Homo sapiens: one gene and its partners. The protein of the gene in region 2 purifies or fractionates together with the protein of the main gene of each other region. This does not show direct contact. Each region holds a gene or a part of one and is shown on either strand. Other genes may lie near its edges.

Region 1 (3,500 bases), on a different chromosome or scaffold from region 2:
TCACGCCTGTAATCCCAGCACTTTGGGAGGCCGAGGCGGGCGGATCACGAGGTCAGGAGATCGAGACCATCCCGGCTAAAACGGTGAAACCCCGTCTCTACTAAAAATACAAAAAATTAGCCGGGCGTAGTGGCGGGCGCCTGTAGTCCCAGCTACTTGGGAGGCTGAGGCAGGAGAATGGCGTGAACCCGGGAGGCGGAGCTTGCAGTGAGCCGAGATCCCGCCACTGCACTCCAGCCTGGGCGACAGAGCGAGACTCCGTCTCAAATAAAAAAAAAAAAAAGAATGAATGAATGGACTGATGTACAGATAGAATGGCGAATGAATGAATGAATGGATGGATACACAAATAAATGAGTAACTTGTAACCCTAAGAGCAGAGATAACTGATGGCCACTGGTCAGAACAAGGCTCCCCATCCACACGCGCCTGGCCTCCTTCCTTCCCAGGCCAACCCCTCCCTCTCTGACCCCGAAGTGGCAGACCTGGCTGGCAGGGAATGCAGACGCCGTCGGGCCCCCGGATCAGCTCCATGGTGTCCTCGTTGACACGTACCAACCGGATGGGGTACACGAAGGACAGGATGCGGCTATTGAAACCACAGGCCCCCACCTGCGAAGGCCAAGACTTGGGCCTGGGCTCTCTCACCATGGGCCCAAAACTGGACAATGAGGGGGAAGTGGGACTCCAGCACCCACACTCTCACGCTCGAACTCTGCCCTCCCCTCTGCATCCAGTGCCTTCTGTGGGCCATCCCTGCAGCAGCCTCGCCCATCCCCAACCTGGCCGCACCTGGCTGTCGAAGTTGCCCAGGCTACAGTTGCACTCTGTGGCCCCGTAGAACTCAGCCACCTGGGGTATGTGGAAGCGGCTGGAAAAGTTGGTCCAGATGGACTGCCGGAGGCCATTGCCTAGTGCCATGCGAACCTGGTGCTGGTTTTCTGCCTCCCGCGGTGGCTGGTTCAGGAGGTAGCGGCACAGTTCACCAATGTACTGCACAATCTGGGGGTGAACTTGGTGTGATTCGAGGCTCCAGAGGCTGCCCTCACTACACTAGGATTCTCCTGATCCCTCAAGCCCCTACTCTCCCCAGGGGCTGGCCATGCCATCCTTTCCCTCTCCGGGTCTCAGCCTTCCCATCTGAACAATGGGAACTTTGCCACAAATGAGCCCTTTGGAATGACTGGCCACCTCAGCTATAAGACAGATGCCCCGGAGTGTAGTTGGGAAGAGGGTAACTAGGGGAAAGGGACAGCTCACCCTTCCCGCTCTCGCTCACCGTGCAGTTGTACTTGATACAATCGTCCCAGAACCGGGAGGCTGAGAACTTCTTCCGAATCACCACCGTCATGCCATGCAGCAGGCACTGGCCGATTCCCACGATGTTTCCTGGAGGCAGAGGGATGGCCCCTGAGGGTCAGCGAGATGAAGACCCTCCCCGGCCCCAAATCAGTGATACTGCCATCCAGCCAGGCAGGCTTGTGCTGCCCTGCAGGCTTCTGCACCTCACATCTGCCTGCCTTGGGTGACCTCCTCCAAGAAGCCTCCCCGGCTTCCATCACCAGGCTCTTCCCTGGTGCTGCCCTCTTGCTCCCTGCCTCTCTCCTACACTCACATATACACCCGACTCTAAGCACCTGGAGGGCAGGAGCTATATTTATTCAAGCTGTCTTCCCTTAAGCCCCTACAAACAAGCAGCAATGCCATGCATATCTGTGGAAACAAACTGAAATGAGACAGGCCCAGATGCCCCGTGGGACACTGCCACACACACTGTGAGGCTGGTGTGCTCATCCTTTTTTCAATTTAAAACAACTTTTTTTTTTTTTTTTGAGACGGAGTCTCGCTCTGTCGCCCAGCCTGGAGTACAGTGATGCCATCTCGGCTCACTGCAAGCTCCGCCTTCCGGGTTCATGCCATTCTCCTGCATCATCCTCCCGAGTAGCTGGGACTACAGGCGCCCGCCACCACGCCCGGCTAATTTTTTTTTTTTTTTGTATTTTTAGTAGAGATGGGGTTTCATCGTGTTAGCCAGGATGGTCTTGATCTCCTGACCTCGTGATCCGCCCGCCTCGGCCTCCCAAAGTGTTGGGATTACAGGCGTGAGCCACCACACCTGGCCTAAAACAAAATTTTTTTTAGAGACAGGTCTCACCATGTTGCCCAGGCTGGCCTTAAACTCCCAGGCTCAAGTGATTCTCCTGTCTCAGCCTTCCCAGTAGCTGAGACCATAGGCATGTGCACCACGCCTGGCTAATCCTGTTTATTTTTATTTTTAAATTAAATTAAATTAATTTATTTATTTATTTTGAGACAGAGTCTTGCCCTGTCACCCAGGCTGATGTGCAATGGCACGATCTAGGCTCACTGCAACCTTTGCCTCCTGGGTTCAAACCATTCTCCTGCCTCAGCCTCCTGGGTAGCTGGGATTACAGGCACCCGCCACCAAGCCCAGCTACTTTTTGTACTTTTAGTAGAGACAGGGTTTCACCATGTTAACCAGGCTGGTCTCGAACTCCTGACCTCGTGATCCACTCACCTCCCAAAGTGTTGGGATTACAGGCGTGAGCCACTGCGCCCAGCCTATTTTTATTTTTTTTGAGACAGTGTCTCGCTCTGTTGCCCAGGCTGGAGTGCAGTGGCGTGATCTCAGCTCACTGCAACCTTTGCCTCCCAGGTTCAAGCAATTCTCATGCCTCAGCCTCACAGGTAGCTGGGATTACAGGCACACGCCACCAGACCCAGCTAATTTTTTTTTTTTTTGAGACAGTGTCTCGCTCTGTTGCCCAGGCTGGAATGCAGTGGCGTGATCTCAGCTCACTGCAACCTTTGCCTCCCAGGTTCAAGCAATTCTCGTGCCTCAGCCTCACAGATAGCTGGGACTACAGGCACACGCCACCACACCCAGATAATTTCTTTCTTTTTTTTTTTTCCGAGACAGAGTCTTGTACTGTTGCCCAGGCTGGAGTGCAGTGGCACGATCTTGGCTCACTGCAAGCTCCACCTCCCGGGTTCACGCCATTCTCCTGCCTCACCCTCCCGAGTAGCTGGGCCTACAGGCATGAGCCACCACACCTGGCTAATTTTTTGTACTTTTAGTAGAGACGGGGTTTCACCGTGTTAGCCAGGATGGTCTCGAACTCCTGGCCTCAAGTGATCCGCCCACCTTGGCCTCTCAAAGTGCTGGGATTACAGGTGTGAGCCACCACACCCAGCCTAATTTTTGTATTTTTAGTAGAGATGGGGTTTTGCCATGTTGGCCAGGCTGGTCTCGAACTCCTGGCCTCAAGTGATCCGCCCACCTTGGCCTCCCAAAGTGCTGGGATTACAGGTGTGAGTCACTGCGCCTGGCCCAAAGCTGTGTGTTTCTACTGCAGCACACTGCCTGATGGGGGTGGGGTTCCTAGAGACCTGGCAGGTGCTGGAGGCTGTGTGACAGCCCTAGAGTTACCTGCTGAGTGGTAGAGGGGGAGGCAGTCATAGACGATGTCGTTGGGCCG
Region 2 (4,171 bases):
GCTAGGATTACATGCACCTGCCACCATGCCTGGCTATCCTTGTGTTGTTTCTTAACTTGTCCTTGACCTGGGTTCCAGTGTTGGTTTCCTGTTGCTGCTGTAGAAAATTATCAGAAGCATGGCACCAGGAGAGAGCACACTAACCCCTTCCAATTCTGGAGACAGAAATCGGACCCTGTTTGTCGTGGGTAAAATCAAGGCACCTGCAGGGCTTCGTTCCCTCTGGAGACTCAGGAGAATCAGTTCCTTGACTTTTCCAGCCTCTATAGGCCACCTGCATTCATGGCTCCTGGACTTCCTCCACCTTCAAAGCTGATGGAGACTCCCATTATGCTGCTGTAATCCCCACTCCCCTCTTCCTCCTCCTTTCATGTGGACCCCTGTGACTACACTGAGCCCATCAGGACAGTCCAGGCTGTCTCCCCATCTCAAGGTCAACTCATCAACAACCTGAGCTCCATCTTCTCCTTCAGTCCCTTCCCCTATATCATAAATAGTCACAGACTCCAGGGATTAGAATGTAGTCATCACTGGGGACAATTATTCTTCCCACCACAGCACCCATTTCCCTGTATTCAATCCCCCTTTACCCCAAATACAGTCAGGACTTGCATGATGGGACCCGCAAGGACACGCCCACCAGGAGCTCTGGGATTCAGGAGGTGGGACAAGGAGAATCCCAGACAGGAGCCCTCTGACCTGTGACCGTGATCTCCAGGGGGTTGCTGGGTGCCGACCACCCACTGGGGTAGTGTGGTTGTGAACCCCGACATGTATAGGTCCCTGCGTGTGCTGGGGTCACAGGGCCCATGAAAAGGCTGTTCCAGAATATTATGTTGTAGAGCTCAGGGACAGGCACCCCATCTTCCTTTTACAGACTGAAGTTGTTAAACCCAAGATAAGAATGACACTGAAGAATCACATGTCCTGGAGGCACCACAGGGCTTGGCCAGGCAGACAGCAAGGGCTTGTCCTGACCACCGTGGGGAGAAGGAGGCACCGCCTTAGAGAGGAGGATGTGGAGCCGCCCCTCCCTCCCTGTGCTCTGAAGATTCTCCTCGCTTTCCAAGTTTCTATGGCTGCTATCACACCTTGGTGCCCAGGGCTAAAGGAAGGACCCATCCCGCAAACACAAGGTGTCTCCCTACAACAAAAGTGTCAGCTGAGAACTTTGAGCAAGTGCTGAGTAAGAGACTCCTACTAGATTTTAATACTGTAAGATTACTCACATAAAACAACACAGGGTAGACATGGGGTGGAGGGCATGTCCTTTGAGAATGGAATATCAGCCGATGCCTGAACGAAAATAAACAACTGAGTCCCCATCAGAGGATTGGAATGTCAGGGCCATGGCTGTGGTTTTCCCACCTCTTCTGGTAGAATGACAGCAGCCACACTGCAGCCCCTACCGTCATGGAAACGCTGAAGTGTGTGAGTAACACCTTTGTCCTCAGAGGATCTGCTGTTCCTACCACTTCCCCACCACACACCCCAGCTTTGAGCACCGTAGTCTAACCCTGGTCCCCACAGAACTTGACTCTGCCAAGGGAATGAAAGGCCAGGGAGGCAAGGTCAGAAATGTGGGCCCAGCACCCCAGGGTCCCTTCTTCCTAGTTTATGAGAGACTCCCTGACAGGACTTCCCTCCCATTTCAGGAAAATCCTCTTATGTGGGGAGATGACACCCGAAGGTTGGGAGAAGGACTCACCCTCATGTGGCCAGGCCCCCTGCAGCAAGAAGAACCCTGGAAAGAAAGATCATGATGGATGACCCATCTGCAGGCAAACCAGGGCACCCTTGCTGCCCCCACTGGGCTGTGAGTCTTGGTAGCCAGGCCCTTCCTGGGCTGAAGGTAAACTCACCCTCAGTGCCTACCTGCACCCAAGAACAGGGCTGTCGGCTGTGCAGAGACCCAGCCTCCAGGTCCATATCCCCACCTCAAGCCCATATCTCCACTCCAGGCCCATATCTCCACTCCAGGCCGATATTTCCACCCTAAGCCCATATCGCCAATCCAGGCCCATATCTCCAATCCAGGCTCAGATCTCCACCCTGGGCCCATATCTCCAATCCAGGCCCTTATCTCCACTCCAGGTCCATATCTCCTCTCCAGTCCCATATCTCCACTCCAGGCCCATATATCCTCTCCAGTCCCATATCTCCACACCCAGGCCCGTATCTCCATCCTAGGCACATATCTCCTCTCCAGGCCCAGATATCGACCTCTAGGCCCATATCTCCACTCCTGGCCCATATCTCCACTCCAGGCCCAGATATCGACCTCTAGGCCCATATCTCCACTCCTGGCCCATATCTCCACTCCAGGCCCATGTCTCCACTTCAGGCCCATATCTCTACTGCAGGCCCATAACTCCACCTCCAGGCCCATGACTCCACTCCAGGCCCATATCTCCACCTCCAGGCCCATATCTCCCCTCCAGGTTCCTATCTCCCCTCCAGGTTCCTATCTCCACTCCAGGCCCAGATCTCCACTACAGTCCCATCACTCCACCTCCAGGCCTATATCTCGACCTCTGGGCCCAGATCTCCACTTCTAGGCCCATCACTCCATCTCTAGGCCCATATATCCACTCCAGGCCCAGATCTCCACTCCAGGCCCATAACTCCACCTCCAGGCCTATATCTCCACCTCTGGGCCCAGATCTCCATCCCCTCACTCCCTCCCTCTATTGCTTTCCAGGACTCACCAACACACGCCATGCTGACGACCAAGAGCGACATGGTGCTGCCGGAGCAGACAGGCAGCCGCGACCGAGCTCAGCTCAGCAGCGCACAGGATGTTATTTGGCGCCCTGCCCATGCAGTTTACATGTTGACCACATCATGGGAGGGTGACGTACGCAGGCTCTTTCTACCTTGCATGAGGCCCAGTGGGTGCTCGCTCAAGAGCGGAACACGGCTTCCTGGAAATTGTTCTCGCTAGAATTTGACACCTAGTGTCCTTCACTATGACCAACTCAAAACACGTCTGAGATCCAACCTCCCGAACACGAGATGCCTAAAATCTGTGCTAACATGAAAGACTTTTCATGTATTTCTATTGTTTTTATCTGAGATTCAAACTCTTCTTCCTGTGTAATATGCAAAATATCTAATAGGTATTATTAATGTTTTCAGAGTCATTGTCACTAATAAACCATTAGAATTTTTCATGCTTGTATTTCTAGTATTACAGCAGAACCAGTTAAAATGATTTAAATTCCCAGGGAAGGATTATGCAATTATTTACAATCTTAGAATTGTACTTTATCAGTAAAAACCCCACCTGTAAATTCTGGAGTTTTGTAGTTTAATCTAAAATTTGTCTCATGACCCAAGATTCCAGAGTCCCAACTCTGGAGTTTGTTTTCCGTCTGTCTCTCTCCCTCCCTCATTTTAAATTTTACAGAAATATCCAGTAACATAATGCTATAGAAAATCAAGTTTCCCCAGCACGTTGGGAAGCCGAGGTGGGCGGATCAACTGAGATAAGGAGTTTGAGAGCAGCCTGGCCAATATAGTGAAACCGTGTCTCTGCTAAAAATCCAAAAATTAGCCGTGCCTGGTGGCAGGCACCTGTAACGCCAGCTACTCAAGAGGCTGAGGCATGAGAATCGCTTGAACCTGGGAGGCAGAAGTTGCAGTGAGCTGAGATTGTGTCACTGCAGTCCAGCCTGGGCGACAGAGCAAGACTCCGCCTCAAGAAAAAAAAGCAAATAGCCTATAATAACAAATTAGAGAGCTCTGGCTACTAAATTTAAAGGGTTCTATAAGGCTACATAAAGTGCAGCATCATCAAGAGTGTGGACACAGAGAGCCCCTTAGCAGAAACAGTGTCTAAAGTACATCCGTGTACACACAGTCCCTTTAGAGTTGACAAAGGCTGCCGTGTGGTTTAAGGTGGCATAGAATGTCTTCTCAATAAATAATATTAAACCAATGGGTTATACCTAGGAAAAAATAAATCTAACTCACACTATAAAAACACTTCTTAGTTTTTATCTAGTTGTACATTTTTTATGATTTATATTTAAATTTGAGAAATAAAAGTCATATACGGTCATCCTTCACTATTCGTGGGTGATTGGTTTCGAGATCTCCACTCAGATACCAAAATCTGTAGATGCTCAAGCCTCTTATATGAAATGGCACAGAGTTTGCAAATAACCTA
Region 3 (3,500 bases), on a different chromosome or scaffold from region 2:
TGTTAGGCCTCACCATGCGTGATCAGGCGGACCTGGCTGTTTCACTGGGGACTTCAAATTGCCAGACCTCTATGTCTCTTCTCCTGAGCTAGGTCTTCTACTGGACTAGGGGCAGCCACCTAGCTGCATGCGTTAGGAAGGGCAATTTTGGGTTATGGCAACTCCTTGTACAAATTTCTACAAATCTCCATTTTTAACCCTACTCCACAGTTCTGCCCTCAGAGAGAGTGATCCCTTCCATTCTTGAGCATTTCTGAGATCTGTGGAAAACTTTTTAAAATCATTGCTTGACTCATAATTTTATTGAGGTGCATCACAGTGGTGGATTTGGAGCTGCTAATGTATTTTTTTGTTTGTTTTAGTTTTACCCAGTTACATTTCTTTATTCTGAAATGTCATTTCAAAAGACCAGACCATAATATCTCCACATGAACAGATATTTTTCTAGAATAGGCCTAAAAGTATTGGGAAGATGGGATTGTCAGCATTAAAACACATAGGAAATCAGGACCCTGGAAGAACTGTAATATTCTCTAGGACTTTTCATTTTCTAAATTTGCAGATATTGCCTGTGATTTCAGTTGAAAGTGATCCAAATCCTAGTGTGTCCATGTTAATTGTGTGTGTAGCTTCAAATGTTATTTAACGTTTCTTAATCAAGTGGAATTTTTCTAATGTTTTCATTTTTCTTTTATTAGACACTTGTATATTGTATATTATACAAGTACAGTGTTCTTATTGTAACAACTTAAATAATACTAAAACGGATAAAGAAAAAGTCAGCCGGGCGCGGTGGCTCACGCCTGTAATCCCAGCACTTTGGGAGGCTGAGGCGGGCGGATCACGAGGGCAGGAGTTCGAGACCATCCTGGCTAACACGGTGAAACCCCGTCTCTACTAAAAATACAAAAAATTAGCTGGGCGTGGTGGCAGGCGCCTGTAGTCCCAGCTACTCAGGAGGCTGAGGCAGGAGAATGGCATGAACCTGGGAGGCGGAGGTTGCAGTGAGCCAAGATCGCGCCACTGCACTCCAGCCTGGGTGACAGAGCAAGACTCCGTCTCAAACAAAAAAAAAGAAAAAGAAAAAGTCAGTCTCCTGGTAGTACCCCTCCATTCTTAACCCCTGAAGCAACTTGTGTTAACTGACAGTTGTGTATCCTTCTGATACCTTTTTCACTGTCATACAGACATCCCCAAAGATGTTTGTTTCTGTAATTATTAGAGGATTCATATTCTATACATTCTGTGGCTTGCTTTAATCACTCAATATGTTATAAACATCCCTTCAAGTTAATAGAAATACTAACTTTGTTTTGTTTTGTTTGAGACTGCGTCTTGTGTTGTCACCCAAGCTGGAGTGCAGTGGCGCGATCTCAGCTCACTGCAACCTCTGTCTCCTGGGCTTCAAGTGATTCTTCACCCTCAGCCTCCCAGTAGCTGGGATTACAGGCGCTCACCACCACGCCTGGCTAATTTTTGTATTTTTAGTAGAGAAGAGGTTTCACCATGTTGGCCAGGCTGGTCTTGAACTCCTTGGCCTCAAGTGATCCACCTGCCTTGGCTTCCCAAAGTGCTGGGATTACAGGCATGAGCCACCGCGCCTAGCCCTAACTCATTTTTTTAAATACCCAAATACTATGTAATCACTGCCTGTGATTTCAGTTGAAAGTGATCTAAATCCTAGCATGTCCATGTTAATTTTGTGTGTGTGTGTAGCTTCAGATGTTGTTAACATTTCTTAATCACTCAGGTGGGATTTTTCTAATGTTCTTTTCATTTTTCTTTATTAGATATTTATATATTATCGAAGTACATTTGTATATTATCAAAATGTTCTTATTGTAACAACTTAACTAATACTAAAATGGATAAAGGAAAAGTCAATCTCCTGGTAGTACCCCTCCATTCTTAACCTCTGAAGTAACTTGTGTTAAGTGACAATTGTGTATCTTACTGATATACAACTTTTTCACTGTCATACAAACATCCCCAAGGGTGTTTGTTTCTGAAAATATTACAGCATTGATATTCTGCACATTCCGTAGCTTGCTTTAATCACTCAATATGTTATAAACACCCCTTCGTGTTAATAGAAATAATACTAACTCATCCTTTTTAATAACCAAAGTATGGTTATATCATAATCTATTATACCATTCAAATGTTACTTCCAGTTTTGGGGGATTTTTTTTTTTTGGTCTTTTTGCTGTTGTTGTTCATTTTTTACTATTCCAAAAATGCTTCAACAAATATTCTTTTACAGATTGAATGTTGCTTATCCAAAATACTTGGGACCAGAAGTCTTGGGGATTTCTGATTTTCAGATTAGGGATGTTCAACCTGTATATACCTCCTTACACACTTTTGTTTCTCTTTTGCCATCTCAAATCTTGAAATTCAAGTTTTGATTCATGTGTCATTTGTTTAGAATATTCCTTCTAGCATTTCCCTTCAATAAGATACATGGTGGTTTACTCTGTGAGACCTTACCTGGCCAAAAATGTGTTCACTCAGCTCCCAGATAGATCCAGCTATGAGAGCCTCTTAAGCAATGGCATATCAGGCAGTGATGCATCCATCACTGGGCTCTTCCCTTAGGGGCTGGGCATCACACCAGCTACAAGACTATCGGCTCTCTGCTTGTCATCTTTCTGGCTGCATGTAGCAGTCCTTTCCCAGCTTCAGTGCCTGGGAGCAATTTCACTGCAACCCCTGTGTATGCAGATCCATAGTCTTCCACTGTCTGGGTTCCTCAGGAAGCAAGGAAGCCCTAGGTCTTTGCCTCAAGCTTGAAGAAAAATCTAAGCTTCCCTGCTGTCAGTTCCCTGGTTCTCTCTTCACTTCAGAGAGTATAGCCCTCTACCTGGCTTTCTTCCCTGGAGATCTCAAGGGAACTTGGGGCCTCAGATGGACCCTCCTTAGTGTGTCTGCTTTTATTCTTGTGCTACTCCATGGAGGAAATGGACCAAAGGTCAAGTCAGGAATTTATACTCTCACCATCATCTTCCCCAAATCTCAATCTCTTGATTTAAAAAAAAAAAAAAATAGATATTTTCAAAATTGCTCAACAGCATTTCATTTTCTGTTGCTATTTATAATGTCAACATGCAAAGCACTCCTCTGAGTGTTACATATCAAAGTGGATACTGACCCTGCCCTCTAGGGCTCTAATGTCCAGAGAGATAAGACTATGGGAAATGAATAATCCTGGAAGTGATAGCAAAATGATACTAACTTAGGGCCAAGCTTGGTGGCTCACACCTATAACTCCAGCACTTTGGGAGGCGGAGGTAGGAGGATGGCTTGAGCCCAGGAGTTTGAGACCAGCCTGGGCAACATAGGGAGACCCCATCTCTAGAAATAATTTAAAAATTAGAAAAAAAAAATTAGCCAGGCATGATGGCACATGCCTGTAGTCCCAGCTACTCAGGAGGCTGAGGTGGGAGGATTGCTTGAGCCCAGGGAGTCAAGGCTGCAATAGCCACAGTCACACCACTGGG
Region 4 (3,500 bases), on a different chromosome or scaffold from region 2:
TTTAAACAACAAAATCCTTTAAAATTCTATCAACTGGGTTTTGCTAAGTGAATAGACTAATTGCTTTAACTAGCAACGGCCTAGAAGTTTAAAAAGAGAGGAAGCTAGAAAGTAAAAGATAACATTTTAATAATCCTGGTTGTTTCTATGCCCTTGATGTTTAGTTCCTCGTGAAAACATGTTTTAGAAAGAATTTTTAAGCCAATCTGGCCATACACGGATTCCTGGATTTGCTTAGCTTGGTCCATGAGAAATATTGTTAAAGAGTGCTTGACACTGATGCTTGTTAAGTGGATCTTGTGAACATCATAAGGAGATTTTTTTTTTTTTTTTTTGAGACGGAGTCTCACTCTGTAGCCCAGGCTGGAGTACAGTGGCACGATCTCAGCTCACTGCAACCTCCGACTCCCGGGTTCAAGCGATTCTCCTGCCTCAGCCTCCTGAGTAGCTGGGATTACAGGCATGTGCCACCACGCCTTGCTAATTTTTGTATTTTTAGTAGAGACGGGGTTTCACCATGTTGGCCAGGATGTTCTTGATCTCCTGACCTCCTGATCCGTCCGCCTCGGCCTTCCAAAGTACGGGGATTACAGGTGTGAGCCACCGCGCCCCAGTCCATAAAGAGATTTTAAAATGTGGGTCCTAGCTACAGGTAAGCTTGGGTTTGTGTAGTGGTGTAAGTTCCCTTGCTACGCCCTTTGCTCTTCTGGGCTGCTAGAGGGTGTAGTAATACTCCCACCTCCAAAAGTTGGACTTCGTAAGCCTTTATAACCCAGCGTGAATTGGAAAGAAGATGCAGGAGGTTTATCTCTATAGATGAGCTCTCACAAGATTAGTCTAATACCTGGGTTGCGCATTGCAGGGCAAACAGCTCCAGGCCCTCAGAGCTGCTCAAGGCTTTTCAACCCAGGGGATGATAATCAATGTTATGTCAATGAATCAGCCAAACAGACAGAAAGATCACATTATGTTTTCTCTGTTTGAAAAGGTAAATACCTCATACATTTTGAAAATTTCAATGAAAATCGTTTGAGTTAAGAAGTTCTAATATTTAAAGAGTTAAGCTTTCATTTTCTGGAAGCCTTTGTGAATAGGGCTGGGTAGATGCAGCGGGCCCTGCATGTTCACTGCCCTTTGTAGCTTTTACAAATGACCTGTGTCATGTCATCCTCACTGTCTTCTCCCCACCAGGATGACAACTGGGGAGAGACCACCACGGCCATCACAGGCACCTCGGAGCACAGCATATCCCAAGAGGACATTGCCAGGATCAGCAAGGACATGGAGGACAGCGTGGGGCTGGATTGCAAACGCTACCTGGGCCTCACCGTCGCCTCTTTTCTTGGACTTCTAGTTTTCCTCACCCCTATTGCCTTCATCCTTTTACCTCCGATCCTGTGGAGGGATGAGCTGGAGCCTTGTGGCACAATTTGTGAGGGGCTCTTTATCTCCATGGCATTCAAACTCCTCATTCTGCTCATAGGGACCTGGGCACTTTTTTTCCGCAAGCGGAGAGCTGACATGCCACGGGTGTTTGTGTTTCGTGCCCTTTTGTTGGTCCTCATCTTTCTCTTTGTGGTTTCCTATTGGCTTTTTTACGGGGTCCGCATTTTGGACTCTCGGGACCGGAATTACCAGGGCATTGTGCAATATGCAGTCTCCCTTGTGGATGCCCTCCTCTTCATCCATTACCTGGCCATCGTCCTGCTGGAGCTCAGGCAGCTGCAGCCCATGTTCACGCTGCAGGTGGTCCGCTCCACCGATGGCGAGTCCCGCTTCTACAGCCTGGGACACCTGAGGTAAGAGGCAACATCCAGGAGGCAGAAAGGATGGCTGATGTCTTGCTGGGAGACAGCTGCTCTGTAGCACGTGAGGGGTGGTGACAGATGCCAAGAGCTAGGACCAGAGTCTGACTCTTTTCTGGTTTGGGGAGGAGATGCGAGGGTGGGGAGGGTGTCCATGTTCATTGAGTTTCTGGACTTCTAGATGGTGCGGGGCAGTTGCTGGCTCTCACCCAGGTTGAGATTTTGCTGGGCTTGTTCTCAAAGTTATTGGCAGCTCCCAAAAATGATGGAGAAAGGAGATGCATAGTGATGGCTGCCTTCTTTGACTCTGAAATTGGCCAATGGACAACAGATAAAGTGACCAGCAGCTCCATTTTGTCCCAAATGTGACATCTGGTTTACCATGTTGTCCCAGTGGAATAATGAATTGTTCCTTTTTTCCCACTCTCAGAGGCCTGGTTTGGGCAGTAAATTATATGGTCATCCGAGGGACCCTCCAATAAAGAATCAAGTGCAGGTTAGAGACTCCAAATGTGTAATCCTTGAGTGTTGTGAAAATGTATGCGTGAGAAAAAGTTAGAAGTCAGTTGGGTTGTCATACTTACATCTCTGCATAAAATCTCATTATTTTGTGGTTAAATAAGAGTGATTACCATCATTTTATTTGCTTCAAGGTAAGCACTTTATATATAGATTGTGTATTTAGTCTTCATAGAACCCCGTGACCTAGGTATTATTAATCCCTGTGTCACAGATGAAGAAACTAGGGCTTAGGGGATTTAAGTAATTTGCACAAAAACATATGGCTAGCCTCATTTAGGATTCACTCAGATGTCATGAGGCCAGGGCTGAGTGAATGCCCCCATAATGGCATCTCTCACTTTGTGGTTAGTGGCCTATTTTTCCATCTGTTTTCTTCCACAGACTATGAACTCCCTGAGGCCAGGGGCCACCCTTATACCTCATTACATCCTCAGTGCCTGGCATGGAGCATGGCTTGCACTGAGATGTTCTCTGGGTGAATGCAGAGCCTGGGACATTTGACTTCAAAGCCTTTACCCTCTCCCAGGCTCTCTGCCTCCTTAGGCAGTATATGCTGATGTGTGTAGCCTGCTTGGGGCAGGGTAGGCACTTAGTTCATTGCAGCTATTACTGCTGTGATCATGTAGCTGGCAGAGCAGCCAGAATCAGCAAGGGCACACCTTAGTGGGTATCAGAACAATCGGCTTTGTCATAGATTTGGCTGGGCTCCAGGAAGGTGGCTCAGCCTGTATTTGGAGTCAGGCCATGCTGCCAAACCATCTTCATGTTGGTGTGTACCCTCCTCCATTCCTCTGGCTTGGCTTGTGCTACGAGAACGGGATGATCTAGCGTTCAAGGTTGCTGCCACCCTAACTGATCCTTGGTGGAAACTGGTGTCCAAGTCACATGTCTGTGCACCAAAAATCTGGGGTTTAGAGTCCTTCACAGATGCCTGTAGGGCTCTGAAGACAAGTAGGTCACCGCTTTGCTGCATATTCATCTCAGAAGGCTTTCTTTTCCCATGTTTTGCATCAGGGAATGACCAGCAGTTTTGTGTTAAACATCTGCTGTGTGCAGAGCCCTGGACACACCAGGCTGGCTGCCTTCAGAGCTCTATCTCAGCACCTGTGGCACTCACAGTCACTTGGAAAGAGACCAGTGCACCGCTGTCTGGTGGACAGGTGCAGAAACAGG
Region 5 (2,762 bases), on a different chromosome or scaffold from region 2:
GCCTCCCAAAAGTGCTGGGATTACAGGCGTGAGCCACCCCACCTGGCCTATAAACTATTTATTTATTAGCACTGTGCTAGTGGTTTAAAAAGAAAACAAAAACAGATATGGTCCCCGCCTTGCAGAGCTTGCTGCCTAATTGTCTGGTCACCGAGTGGCCTGACTTCATGGATGGCTGCTGCGGAGTAGCAGTTGAGGAGCGAAGAGGTCTTACAGAACACCCACAGGCCGCATCCAGAAGCCTCACTCATTCTCCCTGATCTCAGAATGTCCTTTTCTTTTCAGCTATGCCTCCAACAAAGCAAGTAAAGCTGCTTCCGTCCTTCTGTATTCTCTGTGGGCACACACGGAACTGCATCATGCCTACAAGAAGGTAAGAACATGAACAAGGAATGTGTCATAGTTAACAGAGCCAGGTAATAATGGCCCACTTGACTTGACCCTGGGAAGAAATCGCTAAAAAACTGCATTTTCTTGTGTGCCAGTTTTGTTACCTTTCACGTTTCTGTTTGCTTATTCCAAAGGCTCAGTTTAAGAAGACAGATTTTGTCAACAGCCGGACTGCCAAAGCCTACCACTCCCTTAAAGACTGAGGAAAATGACAAAGTATTCTCGGCTGCAAAAATCCCCAAAGGAAAACACCTATTTTTCTACTACCCAGCCCAAGAAACCTCAAAAGCATGCCTTGTTTCTATCCTTCTCTATTTCCGTGGTCCCCTGAATCCAGAAAACAAATAGAACATAATTTTATGAGTCTTCCAGAAGACCTTTGCAAGTTTGCCACCAGTAGATACCGGCCACAGGCTCGACAAATAGTGGTCTTTGTTATTAGGGCTTATGGTACATGGCTTCCTGGAATCAAAATGTGAATTCATGTGGAAGGGACATTAATCCAATAAATAAGGAAAGAAGCTGTTGCATTACTGGGATTTTAAAAGTTTGATTTACATTTATATTCCTTTTCTGGTTCCCATGTTTTGTCACTCATGTGCACATTGCTTCGCCATTGGGCCTCCAGTGTATTGTTCTGCAGTGTTGAAACAGAATGGAAATGACAAGAAATATCTGCAGTTATCCAGGAGAAAGTATAATGGCAAAATTATTGGTTTCTTTCTTTACTTTGTGCTTGTTTTTATCCCCTTGGGTTGTTTTTCTCTGATTTTTAAATAAACTTAAGAAATTTAGATTACAGAGTATGCATGACTGTAAGAAAAAGAAATTGAGAGGAAGTGATCATAGCAAATTAAAGAAGTCTTTTCCTCCCAGAACTTAAAGTAAAATAAAAAATAAATAAATAAATAAAATCTTTTCCACAGAGAAAGGCAACTGTGATGATAAAATTTAACGTTCCCCCAAACACTGAGTCAATGAGATTTTTCTCAGGAGATACTTTACCTATAACAACGCCGTTAAATCCAAATCTCTTCTAAACGATGGCATTCTATGTAATGCCTTTCCTGGACTTTTTTGGCCACTGCCCTGGACTAGTGAAAGAATGGACTCTATCTTTATCTGCAAGAGGAACTAAGGCCTTCTCTCAGACTGCCTGGCCAGCCTGGGGCACTGAAAATACGGCTCATGTTAATGAGTTACATTATCAGCCAGCCCAGCCTTGCCCACCATTTAAGAAATATCACAGAGCCACTAGATCTCATATGATCTTCTTCAAGCCATTATTTTAACTCAAGAAAACTCTAGAGAAGAAAAGTGAAGAAGTCATGTTGAAGAAGATGTAAGAATGTGTCAAGACCATCCAGAAATGATATGAGAAATACTGATATTTTAAATGGTTGACATCATCCAGCGAAATGAATCTACATTAAATGTTGTTTTAACTGCGCTATGATTAAAACCATTCATATAGAGTTAGTCTTTACAACTACTATTCTGTTATTTTTTTTTTTAATCTGACAACATTTGTCCTAAGTAAGATAAGCAAAAAAATTCTTCAACTCCTTTTGGCAAGAAAACTGTAACAGAAAATAAATTTTGAATGTGTACTTAAGTCTTTATTATATTTGAAGCAATTTTTTTTCAATTTTAAAAGCTGAATGAAGACAACTTAGGTTGCTAACCTAGTTCAAAATGAAATTATTTAGATACCAATTTTTAAAATACTGGAGAGAATTTATATGTCTTTTTCCAGAGTTCTGATGATAAGCATTTGGAGTGCATTTATTCCTCCAGATAATAAATGTGTGTTCAGAACTTTTTGTGTTTTTTAAGGCATTAATAAAGCCTTCGATAATATTAAATACAAAATGAGACCAAAGTAGTGTTGCTTGCATTGGCGTCTGTGTATATCTGGTTTATTTGTGTATCTTGGAATATATGGTATGATTGACATAAAATTTGAGGATTTAACCTTATAAACTTCAATTACTAAGGGTTTGATACTTTGTAATTAGTTATATTTTCCCCTTAATTAAAATCCTAAATTTTTACCAAGAGACATTTCCTGTGAGAATGGTGGGACTAGATGGTGACCTGACCATAAAAATGAAGACACATGCAGACGTGTTAGCTGCGGTTAGATTTTAGTATATTATTGGGTGATTCTGTGACTGTGAAAAGACAGACTACGTTTGATTTCCATGTGCTGCTTTGTTCACTCTGTTTGCAAACACCTCACTACTTTACAATTTGTGAACACCTCTCAGGGAGGTTCTTCTGTGAATGAACAGTTTTGATCACAGGTCTATACATAAATGTGTTTGTTTTCCTATGTGTCCCAGACAGGGCCCATGCCTTCAGAGAAACTA
Region 6 (3,500 bases), on a different chromosome or scaffold from region 2:
GACAGTTCATTCCTAAGAATGGGAAGCAGAGAGAACTCCTAGTGAAATGGGCTGGGGACACACACTGAGAAGATGGAGCTTTCTTTTGGGATGCGTCTCCCTGTTTGGGTGTGTGGGTGTGAATGGGGTAGCCTCGCCTTGAGGGAAGATTGCAGAGGAGGATGTGGTCCTGGAGACTTTCGCTGAAGGGAGAGCCCAGAATAGGAAGCGCCACCTGCAGACTTGGCTCCAGGGATTATAAATGAGGCTGGTTAATGATATGCCCAGCTGTGATGGGGCCAGGGATGGACCCAAAGTAGGAGGAAGTGGGGGCAGAATACGAGAGAGGATTCGGAAGCATTTCCTCCTCATCGTTCTGGTTAGCTGGAAGGGCTTGAGATCCTGATGTGGCCTTATCTGGGGCTTTCCAGCACTTTCCAGAGCCAGATGTGGCTCTCTCCTTGCCCAGGTACTGGTCTTGCAGCAGGTCTGGGACAGGACAGGTTTTCCTCAGTGTGAGGGATTGAGGTTAGAAGAGTGTGTCCCTGAAGCCCGGGTGGGGTAGTCAGTGGTCCCTACCACTGGGGTTTCAGGAAATAGGTGGGGGATAGATGACCCCAGAGACCCCACACCCAGCACTTTCTGCCTCTTTCAATGCCTACTGTTCTTCTAGCTGCTGCCCTGGCCTCTCGCCACCCTGACATCAACAACCCTTTGGCAGTGCCCACCTGGGGAGGAGCCCGACCTGGTGAGCATTGCCCTGCTCTCCTGCCTGTCCTGGGAGGGCCCTGAGGGCCAGGGGCAGAGTCCTGTGCCTGGCCCCCAAGGGTCCTCAGGCTTGGCTCCTGGCCATGCTCTCACCCTTTACCTCCCACAGGACCCAGGGCAGGGCACATTATGCAGGCCCTGCCCCCCAGGCACCTTCTCAGCTGCATGGGGCTCCAGCCCATGCCAGCCCCATGCCCGTTGCAGCCTTTGGAGGAGGCTGGAGGCCCAGGTGGGCATGGCAACTCGAGATACACTCTGTGGAGACTGCTGGCCTGGGTAAGCCAAAGGGAGTGCGGGGAGGGCTCCTGGCTGGGTGACCAGGACTCTGGATCCTGGGGCCCCAGCCTTATTGTACCCTGAGCAGGCCTCATTCTTCCCATCTGTGAAATGGGATGGGGCAGGACCACGGAGGGTGCCTGGTAGGAAGGAATCCAGCCTCTCCTAAGGATAGTGTTTGGGGAAACTTCTGGGCCTCAGTGGTATCTTCCCTCCTCGCAGGTGGTTTGGGCCTTGGGGGGTTCCCCGCGTTCCATGTCAACCATGTTCCTGGGCACCTCTGGGTACTCATGGCTGTGATGGTGAGTGGCAGACTGGGGCTAGGACTGGTGCAGGGGTATGTGCGGGAGGGGCCAGTGAGTTGGAGCCCAGCAGCCTCTGCAGTGTTCATGTGGGGGCAGTGGGGTCCTTCTTCCAGCCCAGGGCAGGGCGTGCAGCCAAAGGGTCTCCAGCAGGGCACAGTCAGCCGCTCCCCTGGCTGTTTCTGCCCACCATGCTTCCGAGTGGCAGAGAGTGTCCTGCAGATGGCAGCCACAGCTGGGGGCTGGGGACTCACATACTGACCTGTCCCCTGTCCCCATCCCTTCAAAGAGATTCATGCCAGCCAAGTGCAGTGGCTCATGCCTGTAATCTCAGCACTTTGGGAGGCCAAGGCAGGAGGATCACTTTGAGACCAGCTTGGGCAACATAGCAAGACCCTGTCTGCAAAAAATAAAAATAAAAAATTAGCCGGGCGTGGTGGTGCTACTCGGGAGGCTGAGGCGGGAGGATTGCTTGAGTCCATGATTTTCATGCTGCAGTGAGCTGTGATCGCCCCACTGCACTCCAGCCTGGGCAACAAGTGAGACCCTGCCTAAAAAAACCCATGCAGATGAGTGTGCGCATGCAAACACTCACATACCCACACGCACCTCCTCCCGCCACTGAGTCAGTCACCCCCTGAGGCACTAGATTCATGGCCAGGCCACAGGGAGGCAGATCCCACGTCCCTGTGCCCAGACATGTGTCCTGTGTGCCATCTCTTCACCCCCTGACCCCAGCGTGAGGGGAGGGTGGGGCTGGGTGTCTGGCCGTCCTGAGGAGGCCTTGTTCAGGACAATGCTTCGATGGCCAGAAGGGAAAACAGGAGGGCAGTGGGTTGACCTTTGCATCCCCAGCATGGCGGGGAGTGGGCTCCCCTGGGCACATTGGCTCTCCTGCAGCCCCCACTGACTCGGGCCCTGGGCCCCTGTCTCTCTGTGTTTGTGTCACTCTGCTTTTGTCCTGCCTCCATCGTCTGTGATGCTCAGAGTGGGGGCGGCGGGCCCGACGTGGCGTGGAGGTGGCAGCAGGGGCCAGCAGCGGTGGTGAGACACGGCAGCCTGGGAACGGCACCCGGGCAGGTGGCCCAGAGGAGACAGCCGCCCAGTACGCGGTCATCGCCATCGTCCCTGTCTTCTGCCTCATGGGGCTGTTGGGCATCCTGGTGTGCAACCTCCTCAAGCGGAAGGGCTACCACTGCACGGCGCACAAGGAGGTCGGGCCCGGCCCTGGAGGTGGAGGCAGTGGTGAGGCCCAGCTGGGGTCCAGGTGGGAAGGACGGGGGCACGAGCCCAGCCCCAGCTCCACTTGGGGGCTGCCAGCGGAATCCTGCCTGGCCTCTGGGGTCTGAGAGGGAGAGGCTTGGGAGGTGATAGCTGCAGACTGACAACATGGGAGGAAAGGTAAGGGGACGAAGGTGTGGCCGTGGGGGCAGAGCAGAGGTGGCACAGCTGGTCAAGTGGCTTCAGTGGATCCTACCCTGGGTGAAGCCTTGCCCAGATGTGGGGATCTGGACTCTTTGGAGGCCACAGTTGTGTGTATGGTTCCAGGGTCGGATGGTGGCCTTGGAGTTACTCAAGGTGACCTCTGACCTCTGGCCTGGAGTAGCAGGAGTGCCCTGTGGCAGGAGGGCTGGCAGGGCAGCTGTCCTGTCCTGGGCAGGCACCATAAGGGGCTCGGGTTTTGGTTCCAGGCTGTAGTTTGAGTTACAAGGCCTGGAACCGGAGGGACAGGCATGCGCCACCACCTTCACCCCCAGGGCCCCGGGCCCCTTTCCTTCTTCCCCACACCACTACTCCCCTGCAGGGCAGGGGCCCACTCGCACACACCCTGCCCTGGGCCCATGGGAGCCTGTGGCTACCTCAAGAGTGAAATGGCATCTCCCATGCTAGCACCCTCGGCTGTCTGGGGCTGGCATGGGAGCCAGAGACCCTTCTAAGTCCTGACACTGAAGTCTGGCGGGGGCAGGAAGCGGACAGGAGCAGTAAGCCGGCAGGAGGAAACGTGGTGACTCAGGGCCATTTTGCCTGGGACTGTGCTTGTTTTCCTAGAGACTTCCCTTTAACTGCTGGATGCTGCCTGGGTGCAAGTCCTGGGAGCTCTGTTTGCTGCTGGGCCCAGGGCTGATCATCGTGGCCCATTCTCACACCCTTGAGATTTGGGCCCAAAGCTGACTA
Region 7 (3,500 bases), on a different chromosome or scaffold from region 2:
ATATAAAAAATAGCCAGGCATGATAGCACACACCTGTAGTCCCAGCTACTCAGAGGGCTGAGGTAGGAAGATTGCTTAAGGCTGGCCAGGAGATCAAGGGTGCAGTGAGCTGAGATTGTGCCACTGCACTCCAGCCTGGGTGACAGGGCGAGACCCCATCTCTTAAAAAAGAATTAAAAGTAAAATTATCACACCTGTAATCCCAGCACTTTGAGAGGCTGAGGTGGGCGAATCATGAGGTCAGGAGATCGAGACCATCCTGGCTAACACGGTGAAACCCCATCTCTACTAAAAATACAAAAAATTAGCCGGGCGCGGTGGTGGGTGCCTGTAGTCCCAGCTACTCAGGAGGCTGAGGCAGGAGAATGGTGTGAACCCGGGAGGCAGAGCTTGCAGTGAGCCAAGATCGCGCCACTGTACTCCTGCCTGGGTGAAAGAGCGAGACTCCATCTCAAAAAAAAAAAAAAAAAGTAAAATTATGCACACATTATATGCTTATGTGTTTAAGCATATTAATATTAAATATTTTTATTGTGATTACTTTTGGCTTCTGTCATCCACTCATTTTAGTGAATCAGGAAAGTATTTTAATTGACACATGAGTTAAATGACATAGTTTACTGCTCTGCTGCACAAGAACAGCTTTTAAATACAACAGCATTACCACTTATGCAAGAATCTGAATTCGAACAAAAAATAAGGCTCAGTAAAAATTAAAATGTTATTTTTTATCTGTAACTTTTATATAGGGAGTTAAATTGTCTAGGCTTAAATCTGACCTTCAGTGTTTACTATAACCTTGGACAAATTAGATTTAACTAAATTCTGTGCCTCAGTTTCCTTGTCTATAAAATGGGAATATTGGTACCCTCCTCACAGAGTCATGAGGATTAAATGAGATACAGCATGTAGTAAGCCTCCAAACATGTTTGGCACATACCAACAAACCAAATGTTTGAGGCTATAATAGAGTTCTCCTAATAGGAATAGGGTATTAGTGTGAAATTCAGTGGAATGCTTGGGTTAATTCCTGGAAACACTAGATGGATTATACTCAATATAAGCTCCATGAGGGAGAGGAACAGTTACATGGCATGAACCTTTGAGAAAATATTTTAAGCAGACTGCTGAGTATCAATTTAGTACATGTCACGTTGCGGAAAAATCTCAACAAAATTAAATTATTTTATGAGGACGTGGTGGGACTTCCAAAGTAAGTATGGATAGAATTCAGAGAGAAGTAAAATCACCTTTTAGTAATTAAGGAACTTTATTTGGTATGGATTTTTTTAAGTAATCCAAAGTTTGCTCAATAGCAAATATTTGGGAATGAGGAAAACAAGTATGTGTTCTATTTAAATGTCACAATTTTCAACTTAAGACTTTCATATCACAGCTGTATACTATCTTGCTTTTATAATATGCTTGGGATCATAAAATTAAAATTAGAGTCCTCCAAGCAAAAGTTGACAAAGAGCCTTTGTTTAATGCCATATTTCCCATTATTTTCCCCTCATTTCTATTTCCACTCTCTACCTGTAGGCCATGAGTACATAATTAGTTAAGTACATAATCAGATCTCTTTTAATTTCTCAAATAACAAAGGGTAATATGCCAATAGTCATACCTATTATTATCATTCTTGGTCTCCCTCCTTCAACAAGTAAAGATCTTTTATTTGTAGCAGTTTAAACATACACACATCACATGTATGATTTCGTGATATCTTACATGCAATCTCTTACTTTCTCACTTCTTTCTGAGACAAGCAATTGAAGAGGATTTAAAAAAAAAAAAAAAGGAAAATCAGAATTTATGTGAAGACACAAAAGTAATCAAAAGAAAGAGAATTTTGGCCGGGTGCAGTGGCTCACACCAGTAATCCCAGCCCTTTGGGAGGCCGAGGCAGGCAGATCATTTGAGGTCAGGAGTTCGAGACCAGACTGGCCAACATGGTGAAACCCCATCTCTACTAAAAACACACAAAAAAGGCCGGGCTCGGTGGCTCATGCCTGTAATTCCAGCACTTTGGGAGGCCAAGGCGGGCAGATCACCTGAGGTCAGAAGTTCGAGACCAGCCTGGCCAACATGGTGAAACCCCGTCTCTACTAAAAATACAAAAATTAGCCAGGCATGGTGGCACGCGCCTGTAATCTCAGCTACTTGGGAGGCTGAGGCACAAGAATCCCTTGAATGTGGGAGGCAGAGGTTGCAGTGAGTCGAAATTGCGCCACTGCACTCCAGCCTGGCTGACAGAGCAAGACTCTGTCTCAAAAAAAAAAAAAAAAAAAAACCAAACCCCAAAAATTAGCCAAATGCCTGTAATCCCAGGGAGGGAGGCTGAGGCACGAGAACTGCTTGAACCCAGGAGGCAGAGATTGCAGTGAGTCCAGATAGCGCCACTGCCCTCCAGCCTGGGTGACAGAGCGAGACTCCGTCTTGATAAAAAAAAAAAAAGAGAGAGAATTCTATACTTTAAAAATCCCTATTGCTGGCCGGGCCTGGTGGCTCATGCCTATAATCCCAGCACTTTGGGAGGTTGAGGCAGGTGGATCATTTGAGGTCAGGAGTTTGAGACCAACCTGACCAACATGGTGAAACCCTGTCTCTACTGAAAATACAAAAATTAGCTGGCATGGTGGTGCATGCCTGTAAGCCCAGCTGCTCGGGAGGCTGAGGCAGGAGAATCACTTGAACTTGGGAGGTAGAGGTTTCAGTGAGCTGAGATCATGCCACTGCACTCCAGCCTGGGTGACAGAGCGAGACTCTGTCTCAAAAAAAAAAAAAAATCCCTATTGCAAATGGAAGGTCCATTTATGCAAAATGTATTTCCTATTTCATCTAGCAAATCAAACATGGCTACCAGAAAAGCAGACTTAAGAATTGTGGTGTTTTTACCGCATGCTCTCACTCATAGGTGGGAACTGAACAATGAGAACACATGGACACTGGAAGGGGAACATCACACACCGGGACCTATTGTGGGATGGGGGGTGGGGGGAGGGATAGCATTAGGAGATATACCTAATGTAAATGACGAGTTAATGGGTGCAGCACACCAACATGGCACATGTATACATATGTAACAAACCTGCACGTTGTGCACATGTACCCTAAAACTTATAATAAAAAAAAAAAGAATTTTGGTGTTTTTTTTTTAAGAATACAAATTTCTTTTAAAACTTTGCTAAACTGCTAAAATAGGATAGGAATAATGTGTCCTTCTTAGTAGTCTGCACATCACAAATATGCCACTCCATAACTAACTGAAAACCAAAACCAACAAGTGGATTACACATGTTTGAATACTTCATATGTTACCAAGAGAACATTCTGCTCATTATATTAAGGGAAATTAAGTATGTGGGCTGAGCTTCCTGTACCTGGATCCTGCAGTTCATCTACCAAGGCAGTCTCTACCCAAACACTCTAGAATCTTCAGCATACATTTCTTTGAAAACTAAGAATTTTATATCTGGAGATCACAAAATATGAATTTT

Evidence for each region.
Region 1: the proteins of KIR2DL1 (region 2) and SLC27A4 purify together in Homo sapiens (affinity purification with mass spectrometry; one large-scale study listed by BioGRID and IntAct). This does not show direct contact.
Region 3: the proteins of KIR2DL1 (region 2) and GOSR1 purify together in Homo sapiens (affinity purification with mass spectrometry; one large-scale study listed by BioGRID and IntAct). This does not show direct contact.
Region 4: the proteins of KIR2DL1 (region 2) and VANGL1 purify together in Homo sapiens (affinity purification with mass spectrometry; one large-scale study listed by BioGRID and IntAct). This does not show direct contact.
Region 5: the proteins of KIR2DL1 (region 2) and PKP2 purify together in Homo sapiens (affinity purification with mass spectrometry; one large-scale study listed by BioGRID and IntAct). This does not show direct contact.
Region 6: the proteins of KIR2DL1 (region 2) and RELT purify together in Homo sapiens (affinity purification with mass spectrometry; one large-scale study listed by BioGRID and IntAct). This does not show direct contact.
Region 7: the proteins of KIR2DL1 (region 2) and FLVCR1 purify together in Homo sapiens (affinity purification with mass spectrometry; one large-scale study listed by BioGRID and IntAct). This does not show direct contact.

The regions. Positions count from the first base shown.
Region 1 is NC_000009.12:128,350,527-128,354,026, reverse strand, and holds part of SLC27A4 (long-chain fatty acid transport protein 4), read right to left. Parts: coding exon 3,452-3,500; intron 1,390-3,451; coding exon 1,280-1,389; intron 1,003-1,279; coding exon 793-1,002; intron 613-792; coding exon 486-612; intron 1-485. UniProt on the Homo sapiens protein: Mediates the levels of long-chain fatty acids (LCFA) in the cell by facilitating their transport across cell membranes. Appears to be the principal fatty acid transporter in small intestinal enterocytes.
Region 2 is NC_000019.10:54,768,422-54,772,592, reverse strand, and holds the start of KIR2DL1 (killer cell immunoglobulin-like receptor 2DL1 precursor), read right to left. Parts: upstream 2,801-4,171; 5' UTR 2,743-2,800; coding exon 2,709-2,742; exon of another isoform or gene 2,702-2,708; intron 1,924-2,701; exon of another isoform or gene 1,745-1,923; coding exon 1,709-1,744; exon of another isoform or gene 1,656-1,708; intron 1,572-1,655; exon of another isoform or gene 1,529-1,571; intron 1-1,528. UniProt on the Homo sapiens protein: Receptor on natural killer (NK) cells for some HLA-C alleles such as w4 and w6. Inhibits the activity of NK cells thus preventing cell lysis.
Region 3 is NC_000017.11:30,515,408-30,518,907, forward strand, and holds part of GOSR1 (Golgi SNAP receptor complex member 1), read left to right. Parts: intron 1-3,500. UniProt on the Homo sapiens protein: Involved in transport from the ER to the Golgi apparatus as well as in intra-Golgi transport. It belongs to a super-family of proteins called t-SNAREs or soluble NSF (N-ethylmaleimide-sensitive factor) attachment protein receptor.
Region 4 is NC_000001.11:115,662,470-115,665,969, forward strand, and holds part of VANGL1 (vang-like protein 1), read left to right. Parts: intron 1-1,191; coding exon 1,192-1,799; intron 1,800-3,500.
Region 5 is NC_000012.12:32,790,255-32,793,016, reverse strand, and holds the end of PKP2 (plakophilin-2), read left to right. Parts: intron 1-285; coding exon 286-373; intron 374-524; coding exon 525-593; coding exon of another isoform or gene 594-738; 3' UTR 739-2,262; downstream 2,263-2,762. UniProt on the Homo sapiens protein: A component of desmosome cell-cell junctions which are required for positive regulation of cellular adhesion.
Region 6 is NC_000011.10:73,389,899-73,393,398, forward strand, and holds part of RELT (tumor necrosis factor receptor superfamily member 19L isoform 1 precursor), read left to right. Parts: exon of another isoform or gene 1-652; coding exon 653-727; intron 728-856; coding exon 857-1,023; intron 1,024-1,245; coding exon 1,246-1,325; intron 1,326-2,312; coding exon 2,313-2,570; exon of another isoform or gene 2,571-3,500. UniProt on the Homo sapiens protein: May play a role in apoptosis. Induces activation of MAPK14/p38 and MAPK8/JNK MAPK cascades, when overexpressed. Involved in dental enamel formation.
Region 7 is NC_000001.11:212,864,775-212,868,274, reverse strand, and holds part of FLVCR1 (choline/ethanolamine transporter FLVCR1), read right to left. Parts: intron 1-3,500.